Linked DNA regions of Homo sapiens: region 1 is linked to region 2. The links come from fine-mapping of genetic effects on gene expression. A gene starts in region 2. The other region holds a variant in brackets. All regions are shown on one strand. Distances are between the middles of the regions.

What was found.
Region 1: its variant is fine-mapped to the expression of TRIM14 in tibial nerve (GTEx, PIP 0.96).

What each region holds. Positions count from the first base shown.
Region 1 is chr9:98,085,868-98,094,701 of GRCh38, forward strand. TRIM14 (tripartite motif containing 14) reads right to left here. Exons shown (of 6, transcript NM_014788.4): 5 at 6,042-6,134; 6 at 1-2,138. The coding sequence ends at 1,603. Among named protein-coding and RNA genes, the nearest start is that of TRIM14, 29 kb to the right of the region's middle. RefSeq lists enhancers at 1,066-1,740, 1,741-2,414, 4,785-5,344 and a silencer at 1,824-2,093. The variant G/A (reference allele first, on the strand shown) is at 3,573.
Region 2 is chr9:98,114,944-98,123,777 of GRCh38, forward strand. It overlaps TRIM14 (tripartite motif containing 14), which reads right to left and starts at 4,279. Exons shown (of 6, transcript NM_014788.4): 1 at 4,039-4,279. The coding sequence starts at 4,245. CORO2A (coronin 2A) reads right to left here. Exons shown (of 12, transcript NM_052820.4): 12 at 6,032-8,834. RefSeq lists an enhancer at 3,753-3,802 and a silencer at 4,113-4,212.

The DNA of each region.
Region 1 (8,834 bases), 29 kb before region 2:
GCGACCTTGGCCTCCCACCAAGCACCTATGAAGATGCTTTAACAGAATATAACTTCAAAACCGTCTAGGGAATTGACAAAACAGGACGCAGAACCTTCAGAACGGAGACACAAATCCCTGGAAAGAAGCCTCCCACTCCCTGCTAGCGAAGGTGGCCTCCTGTGAGGGCCTACTGTTTTCTACCTCTGTCACTTCATTCCAGACAGCTGGGCACTCTGGGTTTCCTTGGCAACATCTGGATCTAAGGGTGCTCTTACCCTTTTTGTCCCAAGACAGTTGGGAAACACCACCCCCTTTGGTTGCTTAGCAACTGTCACCTGCTGATTCCTTCCCAAAATCCCCTGAGAAATGAGTAAGCAGGTTGAAAGCTGGGCCTAAGGGCTGGGCCAGGGGACAGGTCAGATGCTTGCCTGGGGGTGGGTGAACGGGGCACACGTCTGGCCCCCCTATATCACCCCGGGGTAACTTTACGCAGCTCTGCTTTCTTTCAGGACCTCAGACTCCCCAGATGAGATCTGGCTGGGTGACCTGTGAGGCCCGCCTAACTCAGCTCTTCTGTTACTCAGTGATAGGCACCTGCTGGTTATTAATTCACTGCTTGGGAGGGAAGGGGCTTTCTGGGAACTTTTCAGGGTGGAGAGAGTATAGGACAAAGCTGCCCTTCCAAAGCCTCCAATTTAGTTGGAAAGACAGGTCCCAGATTTGTGGCTCTGATAGTGAGATTCTTGTTCCTTGGTTAGACTTCCTGGCGCAGGTAAGCCTGCGGAAGACTGAGACAGGTGAAAAGACTTTTCTGCATGAATGTGCTGGCAGCAGAGAGGTGTGGAGGTGGAACTATGCGACACATTTCTGACTGGAGAGTCTCTAAGAAGAGTGGTAGGAGCTAGGTGAGGATAAGTAATTTTGGGCAGACTAGACAAGCCTTGAATGCTAAGGTGAGGCGCTTGTATTTTTTTTTGTTATTTCATGGAAACTCCTGGAAGCCTTTTCATAGCTGAGGGGTTAAGTGAAGTTTTAGGAAGATCACTCTAGTTTTAGGGTGGAAGATGAGGACTGGGAGAGGGTTCAGACCAGGAACTGCTAAGAAGCTCTTGCAGCTTCTGGAGGGAGCTGTGATGTGGACACGCTGAAATCGGTGGGGAGGAAGCGGAAGATTCAAGGGACCTCAAGAGACAGAAGAGTCAGGACTGGATGACTCCCATTCATTCACAAACGTTTACTGTGTGCCTACTATGTGTCAGGTTCCTGTGCTGTACGAGGGAGAAGGTTCCCAGGCTGCGGATGATGTATTCAGGATGCTGAGGGCTTACCTGTGGGGGTATCACTTTGAAGGAACTGGATTAAAGTAGTGTAAGTGATGGTGGGGTGAGGGTGCGGAGGTCTGATGAGAGGGCAGCAGCAGACTTGTTTAGGGCCTGTTTGAAACTAGCCTAGGAGAGGAAACCTTCAAAGCACTGTAGGCGTGATTGGTCGGGGAAAGCTGGGGCAGGGAGAGGGCCCTAAGAAGCAGGCAGTAAGGGGACCAGCCACGCTGATCTAGGTAGATTAGGCGAGACTGGGCAGCTGCGGCGTACCTGGAGGCTGTCACGCCGGTCCTGGCCCCTAGGGCAGCCGGGGGATGCTGATGGCCCCCTCCCAGAGCCGCAGGGCCGGGTAGAGCGGCTCCTGGAACGTGGCGCGGAAGGTATGCAGGTGGCTCATGCCGCCCGTCACGTCGTAGAAGGCGAGGACGCCGGCCTCGTAGTCCAGGAAGACGCCGAGCCGGTCGAGGTCGTCGCGGGGCCGCAGGCGGCTGCGCTGGCCGTCGTGGAAGGCCCAGTACTCAAGGTCGTAGCGCTTGAGGCACCAGGACTGGCGGTTGCAGCCCAGGCGGGCGGCGGCCGAGGCCCCGCGGCGCCGAAGGGAGGCGTAGGCCGCGCCCACCCACCAGCCGGCGCCCGCCTCCTGCACGTCAACCTCCCAGTAGTGGCGGCCGGTGGCGAAGCAGTCACGAGCCAGCACTTGCCAGAGCGCGTCGAACCGCAGCACGGGCACGGGCCCCAGGCTGCCCAGCAGGCCGCAGCGCACCGTCAGGCGATCGGCGGACAGGCGCAGGCGCGCGTGCATCGTGTCAGGATCCAGCGTGGGCGTGCGCGCGTCTGCAGGGGGCGAGACAAGGGACGCACCTGGTGGGCGGGGCCAGCGCGGCGCCCCGCCCCCGGGAACCCACCAACGCACGTGCAAATCACAAAATGCGAAGCGCGGAAATGGCCCAAGGAAGGGGTGACAGACCCCTTTAAACCGCGACTGCCCCTGGGGCGGGGTCTTGGGGAAAGGGGAAGAAGAGATCACTCTGCTGCACATCCCTTATACTGTCTGTATTTTGTGCCGTGAAATTTGTTGCCAATTAATACAAATTTAATTAAAACTAATCCTATCACTGTTAACATTAGGGTGTGTGTACTTCCTATCTTTCCCCTCCCCTTGCTGCTTTATAGCTTTTCTTTTTCTTTTTTTTCTTTTTTTGAAACGGAGTCTCGCTCTGTTGCCCAGGCTGGAGTGCAGTGGCGCGATCTCCGCTCACTGCAAGCTCCGCCTCCCAGGTTCAGGCCATTCTCCTGCCTCAGCCTCCCGAGTAGCTGGGACTACAGGCGCCCACCACCACGCCCGGCTAATTTTTATAGCTTTTCTTAATATTGGTGTCACACCATACATGACGTTAGGTAATCTGCTTTTTAAAATTGATTGATCTACTTGTGAGGCATTTTGACACATCATAATATCCTTTCACAAGAGCATTTTAGTGGAGATTCTAAAATTTTGATGTTTGGACGCATAACTTAGTCCTCCGTTTAAAAAGCTTTTGAAACCACTAATACAATTACATTTTTACGTATCTGATTGCTTCTGTAGAATATACTCCTAAAACAGGAATTGCTGGGTCAATGGGTATTTTTTTAAGGTCTTTGATACATATTGCAAAACTATCCTCCCCAAAGTTTGTAGTGATTTAAACTCTCATTAACATTTCTCTTTGCATTACACCATGTATGTACACATGAAGTTTTTTTTGTTGTTGTTGTTGTTGTTTTTTAAGTCTGGATCACAGGGTATGTGGATATTCAGCTTTCATAAACAAGGCCAAACAGTTTTCCATGGACATTTGGATTGTTTCCGTGTTGCCTATTGTGACTAATGTTGCTATAACTGTAAACGTGTAACAGAGACTGAGTTTTCTAAGAAAAAGAGCATTTTTCTAAGAGAAAGAGAATGAATTATTTTTAAGATTTTCCCCCTTTTTCTCCTGTCTCCCACTTCCTACTTAGCTCTTTATTTTTATTTTTTTTAAGATGGAGTTTCACTCTTGTTGCCCGGGCTGGAGTGCAGTGGTGTGATCTCGACTCACTGCAACCTCGGCCTCCTGGGTTCAAGCGATTCTCCTACCTAAGGCTCCCTAGTAACTAGGATTACAGGCACCTGCCACCACGCCTGGCTAATTTTTGTATTTTCAGTAGAGACAGGGTTTCATCATGTTGGCCAGGCTGGTCTTGATCTCCTGACCTCCGGTGATCCGCCTGCCTCAGCCTCCCAAA[G/A]TGCTGTGGTTACAGGTGTGAGCCACTGTGCCCTGCCTCTACTTAGCTCTTTAGAAATGTAATTATAACCATTACCTTCCCTTCACCAGATAGTCCCTACAGGGCAAACTTATCTACCTACTTAGAGGGTCTAGAACCAGAACTTTCTCCCACCAGGAGATTGCCTTAAGAGACAACAGTCAATTTACAACATAAAGTATGCCTTCAACAGAACTCTTCCACCCGGACAGCATCTCAAGACAACGGCCACATTACAACCTAGTTCTGCCCTCAATGGCACCAGCTCAACCACTTGGTAGAAAACGCATCAAAATGAGTCATATAGACCCCCATCTGCTTGCTCCTTCCCTGCATGCCATTCATACAAAGTCCCCATTTAAAAGCCTCTGCTTTCTGCCCCAAAAGTGAGGCGGTACCGTTAAGGGCAGGAGGAGCCTGTACCTCTTCCCCTAAGCTAATCTTTAGAATAAAACCACTTTCTTTATACCAGACCTCGCTCTTGTTAATTGAACTCTGCAAAGCGTTGAGCAACTGAACCTGTGTTTCGGTCACATAACATTCTTGTGCAGGTCTTTTGATTCACATATGTATGCATTTCTGTTGGATATATGTCTAAGGTGGGAGAAAATGCTGCTCATTATAACCACTTCTATTCAACAATGTTCTAAATGTAGTAGACAGTAACTCAAGGCACGAAAAAGAAGTGAAAGGAAAGAATAAAGATCGGGGAAATGAAAGATTATTATTCATAGGTGACATGCTTATTTACACAAAAACCCAAATAATCTGTAGATAGCTTAGAAGTACTAAGTGAATTTATAACAGCCACTCAGTATGTCAATATACAAAAATGGATAAATCTCATATTGAGTGAAAGAAGCAAAACACAGAAGGGTATAGTGTGAATGATCTACTGAAAGTTCAAAAACAGGTAAAACTAACCTATAGTCCTAGAAGTCTGGAGAGTGGATCCCCTTTGGGGATAGTAAACAAGAAGGCACATGAGGAAGACTTCTGGGGAGTGGAAATTTCCATTTCTTGATCTGAAGGTGGTTACAAAATATGTTTCCTTTTTAAAAAATCATTGAGCTGATTGATCTGCACATTTTTGATTTGTGCACTTTTTTTTTTTTTTTTTTTTTTAAGACGGAGTCTTGCTCTGTTGCCAGGCTGGAGTGCAGTAGTGCGACCTCGGCTCACTGCAACCTTCGCCTCCCGGGTTCAAGCGATTCTCCTGCCTCAGTCTCCTGAGCAGCTAGGACTACTGGTGCATGCCACCATGCCCAGCTAATTTTTGTATTTTTAGTGGAGACAGGGTTTCACCATGTTGTGCAGGCTGGTCTCGAACTGCTGACCTCAAGTGATCCACCTGCCTTGGGTTCCCAAAGTGCTGGGATTACAGGTGTGAGCCACCGTGCTCGGCCTTTAAATCAGTATGTTAGCCTTTGTATGGAAAATGTAAATTTATTCAGTGCCTCTGTTTTGATATTCACTGTCCCCCTCCCAACACCAGGGGCAGTGATCACCATTCTTTGGTTTCCCTCTGTCTCCTGATGGTTACTTTGCACTTGAATAAACTCTGCTAACTGGATACTGAGCCTTCTTTAGATTGAGTCTTTTTTAGGTTGACACCCAGTAATTCCACTTGAGAAATTACTCCTAAAAAATAATCTGAAAATGAGGTATGGTGTGTTCATTCTCTCATTCATTAATTCAATTCAACAAATGTGTACAAGAATGGATGTTTATTACAGCATTGTTTTAGAAATGAAAATGTAAACATCCAACATTATGAGATTGGCTAAATATGACACATCCATTCAATGCAATGCCATGCAACCTCTAAAAACAATGATAAAAATAAAAAATTAGCTGGGCATGGTGGCACACACTGATAGTCCCAGCTATGAGGGAGGCTGAGGTGGGAAAATCATTTGTGCCCAAGAGGTCGAGGCTGCAGTGAGCCATGACTGCACCACTGCACTCCAGAGCAAGACTCGGTCACACACACACACACACATAGTGATAATATTAGCTGGGCACAGTGGCTCACTGTATAAATCCCAAATATATATATGTTCATAATATATCAGTAAATGAAAACAGATGACAAAACAGTATGTATAGTATGACACCACGTTTGTAACATAAAAAGATATATTAAATATATCATTATATGCATATTAGATGTGCTAAAAAAGCTAAAAGGACAAATAATAATAGCAGTTATTCACAGAAGAGGGATTATGAGTAACTTTTTTCTTTCATTTTCTAATTTTTCTACAATGAACATGTATTGTTTTATTGCCTTTAATAATAAACATTTTTTAAAAAACAAGTTCTTAAAATAAATAAATAAATAAATTCTAATGAGAAAAAAAGAGGGACCTCCATTTCCATGATCCTCCTCCACCCAACATCCCACCATCTCCACCGTCTCCACCCTATCCCCACTCCCGGGGGTCTTACATTTCAGCAATAGCGATCGCTCTGGTGAGGGGCTGGTTTTCAACAAGGTACCTGGCTTGGTGCTGGAAGGGTCTGAGAGCTGGCAGTTTATGCCTGTAAGGAATTGTTGAGAAATGAGCGCCCGGAGCTTATGCAAGCAGACAAATAAGACGTGCTAAAAATACCACACAACTGGAGATTCGCATAATCTCGCCCAAGAGCCAGGCAGATTTAAGGGATTTATGTGAATTCACAGGGACAGGAAAACCCCAGGATGACAAGGCTGGTGTGGGAGAGTCCTAAATAGGAGGAGGAGCTGAGGCGCGAACAACTACTGGATCCAACACTCAAGGATGGGCGGCGACTCAGGGAAGATGTGCAGATTCCAGGGTAAAGATGGAAAACAAGAAAGTAGAGCTGAGTCCTCAGGAAGGTCTGAGTGCTCAGAAAGAAAGAAGGAGGGGAGTCTATCCCAACAAGCGGGCACAGCAGGGGCACCCAGGGCCCTTGGCACTTGCTGTGCCCTCTGCCTGGACAGCCCCCCCACACCCTTCCCCCCTTGCCCAGGTTGCCTCCTTCCCAGCTATTGGGGCCGCAGCTCACTCAGCACCTCCGCAGAAGTGCCTTCCGCCCCCATCACTCCCAGCACTCATCACAGGGGCCTGTAGAGATCTGTGGGAAGCCCACCTGCAGGCTGTTTAAATCAAGTTTTGCCTAAAGCTCCTCCTTACATCTTTTAAGTTCGGCCTACATATTTTTCTGTACGTCATGAACAATAACAAGTGGAGGTGTAAACAGACCGTAGCCTGCACTTGTGCCAATCACCAAGTTTTGGCCAATCAGATGTAGCCAACTGTTCAAATTGTGTTCAAATTAGGCGAACGCCGAGCTGTAACCAATCCAGCTGCTTCTGTACCTCACTTCTGTTTTCTGTACGTCGCTTTCCTTTTTCTGTCCCTAAATCTTCTTCCACCACGTGGCTGTGCTGGAGTCTCTGAGTGCACTGTGGCTCAGAGGGCTGCCGGATTCATGAATCGTTCATTGCTCATTTAAACTCCTTTAAATTTAATTTGGCTGAAGTTGTTCTTTCATCAAGGCAAAAGCCTCTCCCCTCTCCCCAGAACTCTAGAATCATAGGTCCTACTGCCGAGGCGATACCACCACATGGGAAGTCCAACTTCTCAAATCTAACAGGTTCACTTCATTCCCTCCAGTCCTAAATACTCTTTCTCACTTCAGAAAATGACAGTTTCCTTCTGCGAGTTGCCCACGTCCAAATCCTTGGATTCTGATCTCTTTCCTCTCTCCCCTGTGACCCTACGTCCACTCCTGTTGTCCCCATTGCTGCTCCTTCGATATGGCCAGCTCACTCCCATCGCGCCTCAGGACCTCCACCCTTGCTTTTCCCTCTGTCTAGAATACCTCCCCCAGACGTAACAGCAGCAGCAATCATAATCGCCAAGACATACGTGGTGCTTAATATGCCTGAGCGCTATATGTGTAAGAGCTCATTTAATCCTCACAGCAGCCCAGGAGAGGCGACTGCATTATGGTCTCCACTTTACAGATGCAGAAACAGAGGCATGGAAAAGGGAGGAGCCGTGTCTAAGATGGCAGGGTTCAGCAGGGTTCCAAGTGGTAGACCTCGGATAGGAACCCAGGAGGCCTAGCTCCAGAGGCCGTGCCTATGACCACTGTGCTCTCTGGCCCTTCAGACCCACAGAACCTGCAGAATGAATGCTTCCTTTGGGCCACCTTGAGTGTCCCCTTCTCAGAGGCCATCCCAACTGCTTATATAAAACAGCTCCTCCTCCTTGTCACTTTCCTGTCTTCCATCCTGCCCTGGTTTATTATTATTATTATTATTGTTATTTTTGAGACAGAGTCTTGCTCTGTCACCCAGGTTGAAGTACAGTGGCATGATCTCAACTCACTGCAACCTCCACCTCCCGGGTTCAAGCAATTCTCCTGCCTCAGCTTCCCGAGTAGCTGGGATTACAGGTGCATGCCACCATGCCTGGCTAATTTTTGTATTTGTAGTAGAGATGGGGTTTCACCATGTTGGCCAGGCTGGTCTCAAACTCCTGACCTCATCATCCACCCACCTCGGCCTCCCAAAGTGCTGGGATTACAGGCGTGAGCCACCACGCCCGGCCTTTATTATTCTTTATAGCAGTATAGCAGTTCCTGTCACCTGACATGTTTGTGTACGGTCTGTCTTCCCCTACGAAGACTGTGAGCACCAAAAGAGGAGAAGGAGCTTTGTTTTGTGCCCTGCTATGCCTGGCATATAAGAGGGGCTTGATAAATGTTCTGAATGAATCATGATAGCAGAGGTGAATGAATGAATGAATGCATAAATGAATCAAAGAACAGATATTTTTGAGTACATGTTTTGTGCCAGGCCCTGGGGGGACCTCAGAGTTGGACCTAAAGCTGGTTTCTGCCCTTCACGTGCTTACAAGGGGCAAGGAGGGGGGTCCATGTATCCACTTCATGAGCACCCTCTAGCAGGACATGGGCAGGCCCTGGAGCGGGAAGGGAGAGGGGAGATGGCTAAAGGAGAGAGTGAGTCAGGGCTGGGCTGGCAGGAAAGGGCTTCCCAGGTGGGCGCAGCTGTGCCAGTCTGCCTCGAAGGGGTGCCAGGCCTTGGCCCCAGCCAGAGGAAGAGAAGGAGGAAGAGTTGGTCATTCCAGCTGGGAGCCCAGAGCAAGGCTGAGATGTGGCAGGCTCCCAGGAGCAATCTGAGGGGCAGAAGCAGGGCAGTGTGACTGGAGAAGGGCAGGTCTCAGTCTCAGGAAGGGTTGGAGGTGA
Region 2 (8,834 bases):
TTTCAGTCAAGAAAATTTTTTCTTTTGTCACAGCAACTGGATAAAAGATACTTTTGTGAGCAAAATTGAAACATTTGTCTTTCTCTCTACCTGATTTCACCAAAATTTGCAAACTATTTGTGTTTACTTTTTTTATTTTCATTTTTAAATTAATTTTTTTTTTTTAGACAGAGTCTTGCTCTGTCACCCAGGCTGGAGTGCAGTGGCATGATCTCGGCTCACTGCAACCTCTGCCTCCTAGGTTCAAGCGATTTTCCTGCCTCAGCCTCCTGAGTAGCTGGGACTACAGGTACATGCCACCACGCTTGGCTAATTTTTCTTTCTGAGGTGGAGTCTTTCTCTGTTGCCCAGGCTGGAGTGCAGTGGCACAATCTTGGCTCACTGCAACCTCTGCCTCGTGGGGTTCAAGCAGTTCTCCTGCCTCAGCCTCCCGAGTAGCTGGGATTACAGGTGCCCACCACCATGCCCAGCTAATTTTTGCATTCTTAGTAGAGATAGGTTTCACCATGTTGGTCATACTGGTCTCGAACTTCTGACCTCGTGATCCACCCACTTTGGCCTCCCAAAGTGCTAGGATTACAGGCGTGAGCCACTGAGCCCAGCACAATTTTTGTATTTTTAGTAAAGATGGGGTTTCACCATGTTGGCCAGGCTGATCTCCAACTCCTGACCTCAACTGATCCGCCCACCACAGCCTCCCAAAGTGCTGGGTTTACAGGCGTGAGCCACCGCACCTGGCTATTTGTGAGTATTCTTATTTTATGACAATATAGTTATTTGCATAAGTTCAATAAGAGTATGTTTTCTTTCATAACAGACCACATTGGAGACACTGGTAATTTTACCAAGGCTTTGACTGAAATGATATATCTTCATATATGATCAGACTGCTTTCAGGAACTGAAGTCAAGTTTACAGAGCCCATAAGAAGACCCTTGGGGGCCAGGCTTGGTGGCTCAGGTCTGTAATCCCAGCACTTTGGGAGGCTGAGGTAGGTGGATCACTTGAGTCCAGGAGTTTGAAACCAGCCTGGGCAACATAGTGAGACCCCGCCTCTATTAAAAAATGTTAACAAGAATAAAATAAAATACAATAAAAGGGGGCCCAGCACTTTGGGACACTGAGGTGGGCAGTTCACTTGAGGTCGGAGTTTTCAAGACCACCCTGGCCAACATGGTGAAGCCACATCTCTACCAACAAATACAAAAATTAGCCAGGAGTGGTGGTGCACACCTGTAGTTCCAGCTACTCAGGAAGCTGAAGTGGGAGAATCACTTGAACCTGGGAGGTGGAGGCTGCAGTGAGCCAAAATTGCACCACCACACTCCAGCCTGGGCAACAGAGTGAGACCCTGTCTCAAAAAAAAAAAAAAAAAAAAATCCTTGGAAAGACTGGACTAGCTTGGTCCTTGTCTACACAGTTCCCTTACAAGGTTCCCGACCTTGTGGTAAGAAAAGAATGTCACTTTCCGACAGGTCTAGGAACCTCAAGATATTTTGGGACCTTGAGAAGAGAATAATTCACCCAATGTGTATGGGTATCACAGGCATAGTCTGATGGTGAATCCTTGGTTTGGCTTTTTAGCTGTAAGGCTTTTAAAAGTCAAATCCAGGCCAGGCGTGGTGTTTCACGCCTATAATCCCAGCACTTTGGAAGGCTGAGGCAAGAGGATCACTTGAGCCCAGGAATTCTAGACCAGCCTGGACAACATGGTGAAACCCCGTCTCTACAAAAAAAATACAAAAAAAAAATTAGCCAGGTGTGGTGGTGCATACCTATAGTCCCAGCTACTTGGGAGGCCAAGGTAGGAGGATTGCTTGACCCTGGGAGGTGGAGGTTGCAGTGAGCCACGATCATGCCATTGCACTCTAGTCTGGGTGACAGAGTGAGACCCTGTGTCTCAAAAAAAAAAAAAAAAAAGTCAAATCCAAAATTCCTTATGAAAGTTCCAATAATGCAAATTATCAGGCCAAGTGTAATATTAAAACTTACTTTGCAAGTAAATTTGTCCTATCAAGACTCATTTTTGGTAAAAACAGGGAACTAGAGAGAGAAAAATTATGTTTCAGAAGAAAATCTTAGCACACCTGTTATGCACACCTGTTATTCCTGTTATTAGATTCCAGCCCTGGCCATTGTTTTTTAGTTTTTATTTTCCTGCAATTTGGACTAAATCCTGAATTATTTCCTGGCTACAACAAGGAAGGTTGTAGAAAAAGTTTTAGAAGCCAATTCCTGGCTTTTAAAGAAGGCTTGGGATTTTCTTCGTGATGTTTTTAGTTGACTCCCCAGTGGAATAGGTTTGGTGTTGTTCTGCCATAGAGATTCTCTGTTTTATTTATTTATTTATTTATTTATTTATTTATTTATTTAAGACAAAGTCTCACTCTGTCATCCAGGCTGGAGTGCGGTGGCGTGATCTCGGCTCATTGCAACCTCCATCTCCCAGGTTCAAGCGATTCTCATGCCTCAGCCTCCTGAGTAGCTGGGATTACAGATGTGTACCACCACACCTGGCTGATTTTCATATTTTTTAATAGAGACGGGGTTTCCCCATGTTGGCCAGGCCTCAAACCCTTGGCCTCATGTGATCCTCCTGCCTCAGCCTCCCAAAGTGCTGGGATTACAGGCATGAGCCACTGTGCCCGACTGCTTATGTCATTTTAATGTAAATTCTTGGTAAACAATTTAGGAACTGCTTCTTCTTTTTTCCTTAAAAACTTATATGTAACTGCTGCTAATCAGAGTGGATAGTCACAGAAATTTGAATCTATGGTCCCAGTTGGCCATCCTCAAGCTTTAGGCTTGGATAAACTCTGTACTTAATCATATTTTCTGAATCTTATTACTTCAAGTTGACAGTAGGTAGTGGGTAGGGGGATGGACAAATGGATGGGTGAGACTCTTGAGCCAGATCTGTGGAAAGCAGCCTTGTTAATTCTGAATAACAGTTTTTCAAGGAGCCATTATTATAATTACAGCCATTTCATACGTTAAAAAAAGGAAGGGTCTGGTGGCAGGGACAGGTCTTGAGCCCACGACTCCACTGGATTGTCCCCCATGATCCCCTTTTCACCTTGGAGTTCCAAGGTTGTCACAGTGTGGTGGTCTGGAGTCATGCAGTACCGGAGAAAGGCTCACGATGGGGCTGAATTCATCACAGAAGACTTCTTGGAGACAAGTGGTAGGATCAACAGCTGTCAGACATGAGGGCCTACCTCACCCAGGCTTCATGAAACCCAGAGAGAGAGAAGGATTTGAGAGAAGCCACAGAAAAAGTCAGCTGGGAAGCTGGAGCAGGAGCCCAGAGCCCCTGGGGCACTGTTAGGATTATGCATGGGTAAGGGTTCCACGGTGACAATGGCCCTGTTGGGGGCATCTGGCTAATGGAGTCCTGGGTTCAAGGCCTGCCCCTGCCTCCAGAGCCTTCCTCTTGTGGCCTATAAAATGGCTGTAATAATAATGGCTCACCCAGGGCTGCTATGAGCAGGAATGGGAGTGTCTGTGTGGCCGGGGAGGGGAGAGGAGGTAGGTAGTGACAGCTGAGGCTGCTCCCAGGGCAGTCAGGCCGTCCTCAGCTCAAAGTTCACAGGCCCTTTCTGTGGACTGCAGATTAAGTAAACCTGAGATGTCTGTGTGGCTTTCTGAGCTACACAGGGCTGTTTATTAAGAGGGAGAGTTTGTACCTCTGTTAACTAAAAGGCAGACTGTCTTCCAGCCCAATGGCAGTGTGGCGGATCGGCCATGGTGGACACGGTCAAGGACATCTGGGTACCAGCCTGGGCTCCCAACCTCTCACTCCTAAACCCACCTTTTCTGAAGCTCAACTGATGGCTTTGGCTCGCCTTTGCCCTTCCTTGGGTCTCAGGCTCCCGCTCTGAACTTTCGGTCGACCGCTTAGACGCCCTCTGGGGCACCTTTGGTTTCCAGGTTGTAACCCGCCACTGGCCACGGCCAGGCACGCCCCCTCCTCGGCCGTTATGCCTGGGCTGGCTCCCCCAACTCCCGCGCGGCGAACCCCGTCCCCATCGTCCCCACCTGCACGTGCACCGCTGCCTCCAGCGCCAGGCCCACAGGGTGGCCACGGTGCGCGCCCAGCACCGGGCAAAGCGCGCACACGCAGCGGCGGCAGCGGCGACAGAAGAGCTCAGCCACGCGGTCGCCATGCTCCGGGCAGCGCCAGCCGCATCCCTCGACAAGCTCCGACCTCCCAGGGGTCCGGCTCCCGGTCGCCGCGCCCGCCATTCATCTCCACCTCCTCCGGCTCCCCGGGACACAGGGCGGGGCTCCCAAGGGAAACCGAAACCTCGGCCGTGGGCGGGGCGGCTCCAGGCCGGCCGGCCGACCCCTAGGAGGATGACAGCCCGCCGGGAGCAGCGTCGGGCCTCGGAGCATCCTCCGACCAGCAGGGTGCTCCCTCTGCCCGCCCAGGCCGGGAGGTGGTCCCACCAGAAATGGGAAGCTCCTAATGAGCCAGCTAGGAGAGGGTGGGCTTCCTGCTTAATGACGCTGTTCCAGTAACGCCCAGAAAACTGCAGCCCTGATGATGGGACCAAAGTTGGCTGTGACCTTCCGGGGGTGCTCCTCTCACTTTCCCTTGATCCTCTCTTGCCCTTTTCCCCGGAAAGATAATCATTCCCACAACTGTAAGATACCTTCATCAACCTCAAATAAGGACACAGAGATTCTCCAATTGAGTTTATTTCGGACTGAGCAGAAGGATTGCAATTCGGGAATAAATGTGCCATGGCACCCAAGGGGTGGGGACGCGGAGTACTCAGGGAGGCAAAGGAAAGCAGAGGCTTTTAAAGGCAAAACGAGGAGGATTGCATATACTGTTTTTTTTGTTTGTTTGTTTGTTTTTGTTTTTTTTTTTTTTTTTTTTTTTTGGAGACGGAGTCTCGGTCTGTCGCCCAGGCTGGAGTGCAGTGGCGCCATCTCTGCTCACTGCAAGCTCCGCCTCCCGGGTTCACGCCATTCTCCTGCTTCAGCCTCCCGAGTAGCTGGAACTACAGGCGCCCGCCACCACGCCCGGCTAATTTTTTGTATTTTTAGTAGAAAAGGGGTTTCACTGTTTTAGCCAGGATGGTCTCGATCTCCTGACCCCGTGATCTGCCCGCCTCGGCCTCCCAAAGTGCTGGGATTACAGGCGTGATCCACCGCGCCCGGCCAGATCGTTTTAAAATAATAATACTTGGTTACAAGAATTAATACAGGTGGCTTCAGTCCAAAAGTTGAACAGGCAGTTGCTGGGCAGATGTCCTCATATCATGGCTTTTGTGCAAGGTTGTGGTTCTTTGTGCAAGGTTGCAGTTTGGTGGAATCTTTTGCAATAATAGTTCCTGTTACCAGGCAAATCGTTGATGAGGGCCCCCCACTTCATGGCCTCCCAGCACCATTTAGTTTGTTTGAGACAGGATCTCGCTCTGTTGCCCAGGCTGGAGTGCAATAGTGCGATCATAGCTCACTGCAGCCTCTAACTCCTGGGCTCAAGTGATCTTCCCACCTCATCTCTGGAGTAGCTGGGACTACAGGAGCACCATTTAGTTTGGTTTTGATGTAAGTGACTCTGTTTTGGTACTGACAACTTTCACACACACACCACCACCCCAAATTCCAGTTGCCCCCCCAGGCTCAAGTCTAGACTTCCACTTATAAAGCCCTCAGCTCTTTCTTAAGATCCTTGGTCTCCGCCCTGCCTATGCTCCACCCTGTGCTTTTTCAAGACTGGGGGACGTGCAGTTTACCCTGCTTGGAACATTCTTCTTCCCAAATGCCCTTTGCCCTGAGTATTCCAACTTACTCTGCAGGTTTCTACCTTACTATCTTTTCCTCCAGGAAGCCTTCCCTCCTTCTCCTTCCAGAACAGCCTATGCTTTCCCTATCCTGGCCCTCCCCATTCCCGCAGCCATGACTGAAAACTGGAGAGGGCAAAGACTGTCTGTTCTGCCTGTTTTCCAGCTTGGTGTCTGACTCCAAGAGTAGATAGTTAATTGGTATTTGTGGAACAAATCAAGAAAAGGAAAGCTCCTTGTAGTAAAATGGCCAGATGTTTATTATTTTGTTACATTATTTCCATTGCATATTCCACATCTATTTATTTTCACTTTTATTTATTATCATTATTTTTCACAAAGGTACAAGGAATTTCAGAAACAACATTAAAACAATCATTCAAACTGTTTCAGGCACGGTTTCAATTAAAAGCATAGATTTGATTTCTGACTTCCTGTTTCCTTCTATGATACAATCTCAAGTTTTGTTTCAGGAAGCACAATTATTGTAGCGTTAAGGTGGATACCTGCCAAAGCTCATCTCCTAGTGCTGTCCTCATTCTCAGAAAGTTCCTGAGTCAACAGAAAGGGGACGCCCAGGGTATGGAATAAGGAGATGAGAGCATGCTCTGCCAACTGGCTGGGACCTGAATGTGCTAGGCAAGTTCCACTACATCAGCTCAAGAACATAAACAAAAATGTAATTTAAAAAACAGATGGTTTAAAAAAATATCTGATAAAAATTACCTATCCCTCTCCCTTGCTGTGAAATAATTTAAATAATTTATTCTAGATGTAAAAATAATAATACAAAAAAGTTTGTTCAAAGACACCTGTGTCCTGTTTGTTAAGTGTGCAGTCTGGGTCCCTTGGGGTGGAGGGAGCTGGCCAAGGAATGGCATTGTGCAGAGGCATACCGGGAAGCTCTCTGGATGCAACCCCACCTCTACCGCTTGGCAGTCAATGACCTTGGCATGATGTTTCTTCACTTCTCTGAGGCTAGGTCTTTGATTCTGAACATGGGGACTGTAATGCCTGCCTGACCTGTGTTAGAACAGCATGTGTCACTGAGTGGAGGTGGGAGGAATTTGTAAACTGTGAAGTGCTAGCCACACAGGTGGGAAAGGTAAGCCTATCCTGTAGAGCTCTGCTGCCCTGACAATGCCTGGGATTTGGCCTTCTTTTCTGGAGCACACTAAGGCAATCTTGGCTAGTGCATCAGACGGGAGTGAGCCCCAGTGACTGAGTAAATGGAGAATAAGACAAGGAACACGAGCATCCGGCCTGTGCAGACATACAAGCAGAATAAACCACAGCTGGGTAAGGGGCAAACAGGGGCACTGAACCCCCATCGTGCTGCAGCTGCGGTTCCCAGAGATGTTGAGGGAGGGCTTGGGGCAACACTTCTGGACTTTTAAGGAGCCACCAGGCAGGACTTAAGAGATCTGGGTTGAGTCCCAGCTCCTGTCTGGAGCTTGCTGTCCTCTTCATCTTTATTGCAAATAGGTACACATGCAGTCTTCCATCTTCACTGTACTGCAGATCACCTGTGGAGCTTATATGACCATACAGGCCCTACTCTGGAGATTCAGCTTCAGTTGGTCTGGAATGTGGCATGGGCATCTGTATTTCCTGCACGCTCCCAAGGGAATTCTAATGTACACAGCTTGGGTTGAAACCTACCAGACTAGGTGGCCTCCTGCAGTCCCCACCTCAGCTCCAGAATCTAATCGCCCTGTGCAATGGAGATCATCTGCCCCTCCTTGGTAAGGAGGGACCAATTTCACTTCTAATCATTCCCAGTCTCTTGGTGGACTATTGTATTGACCACTGAACTTTAGAGTAGGGCTCGGAACACAGATTCACTAAGGAGGGACAAAGAAAAGCTTTCAGGCTAAAAGGGAACTTTGGGACCATCTGGTACTACTTCTTTACCTCGTATAGTCATTTCAGAAGACCTCCTGGTTAGGTGGCCAGAGGCTCTGCTGGCATGTCTCCAGTGATGGGGGCCCCCTACCTCCTGGGGGACTCTTCTGTTAACTAGGGCTGAAATCTGCCCACATCATCCTGCAGGAGGCAGGCTGTGTACCTGAGGGCCTTGGTGGTGGCAGTCAGCAGTCATGGGCACAGTTCTGAAGTCTGCGTCCCTCCATAAGGGACAGCATCTATCCATATCAGGCTGATTCTGGTTGGAAAGGTTGGTTTTGACCACCTGCCTGTGTTGTAGAATTGGGTTGAATGCCTCTGACCCCTTGCCAGTGTCCGTTAGTTTCTGTAGCAAACCCAGATCACCCCACAGGTAGTTTTCTCTTAGGTCAAGGTTTCAGGTGGCAGATCCTGCAGAGAGCAGCTTGTTCCAGGGTACCCCTGGTTCAGATGAAGAAACTGAGACCAGAGAGGGCAGGACTTGCAAGAGGTCACTGAGTAAGCTGGGGCACAGCTGAGGCCAGAAGCAACAGATTTCTACTCTTTGGGCTGAGAACTGCATCAGACCCAAAAGAGCAAAAAGACAGACCCAGAAAAGCAGGATCTCAGCCCAGCCCTGCCATGAAACAAATATCACTTGCCTCTCTCTAGGCCTTAGTTTCCCCAGCTGTAAAATGAGGAACTTGGGTCAAATCACTAGCTTTCAAACTTCTAAAAAAATTTTTTTTTCCTAGCAGAATTGTTTTTCATACTAGCCCAACATATAAAATAGAAGGGAGCTGTCTGGTTGGAATACAGTGTGGGGAAGGGAGACACAGCCTTCCTGCTTAGTCTTCCCCTATTCTCTCTCTCTTTTTTTTTTTTTTTTTGGAGATGGAGTCTCGCTCTGTCACCCAGGCTGCAGTGCAGTCCGCAATCGTGGCTCATAGCAACCTCCACCTCCCAGGTTCAAGCAATTCTCCTATCTCAGCCTCCCGAATAGCAGGGACTACAGACGCTCACCACCACGGCTGGCCAACTTTTTTTTTTTGAGACGGAGTCTCACTCTGTCACCCAGGCTGGAGTGAAGTGGCATGATCTTGGTTCACTGCAACCTCCGCCTCCCAGGCTCAAGCGATTCTCCTGCCTCAGCCT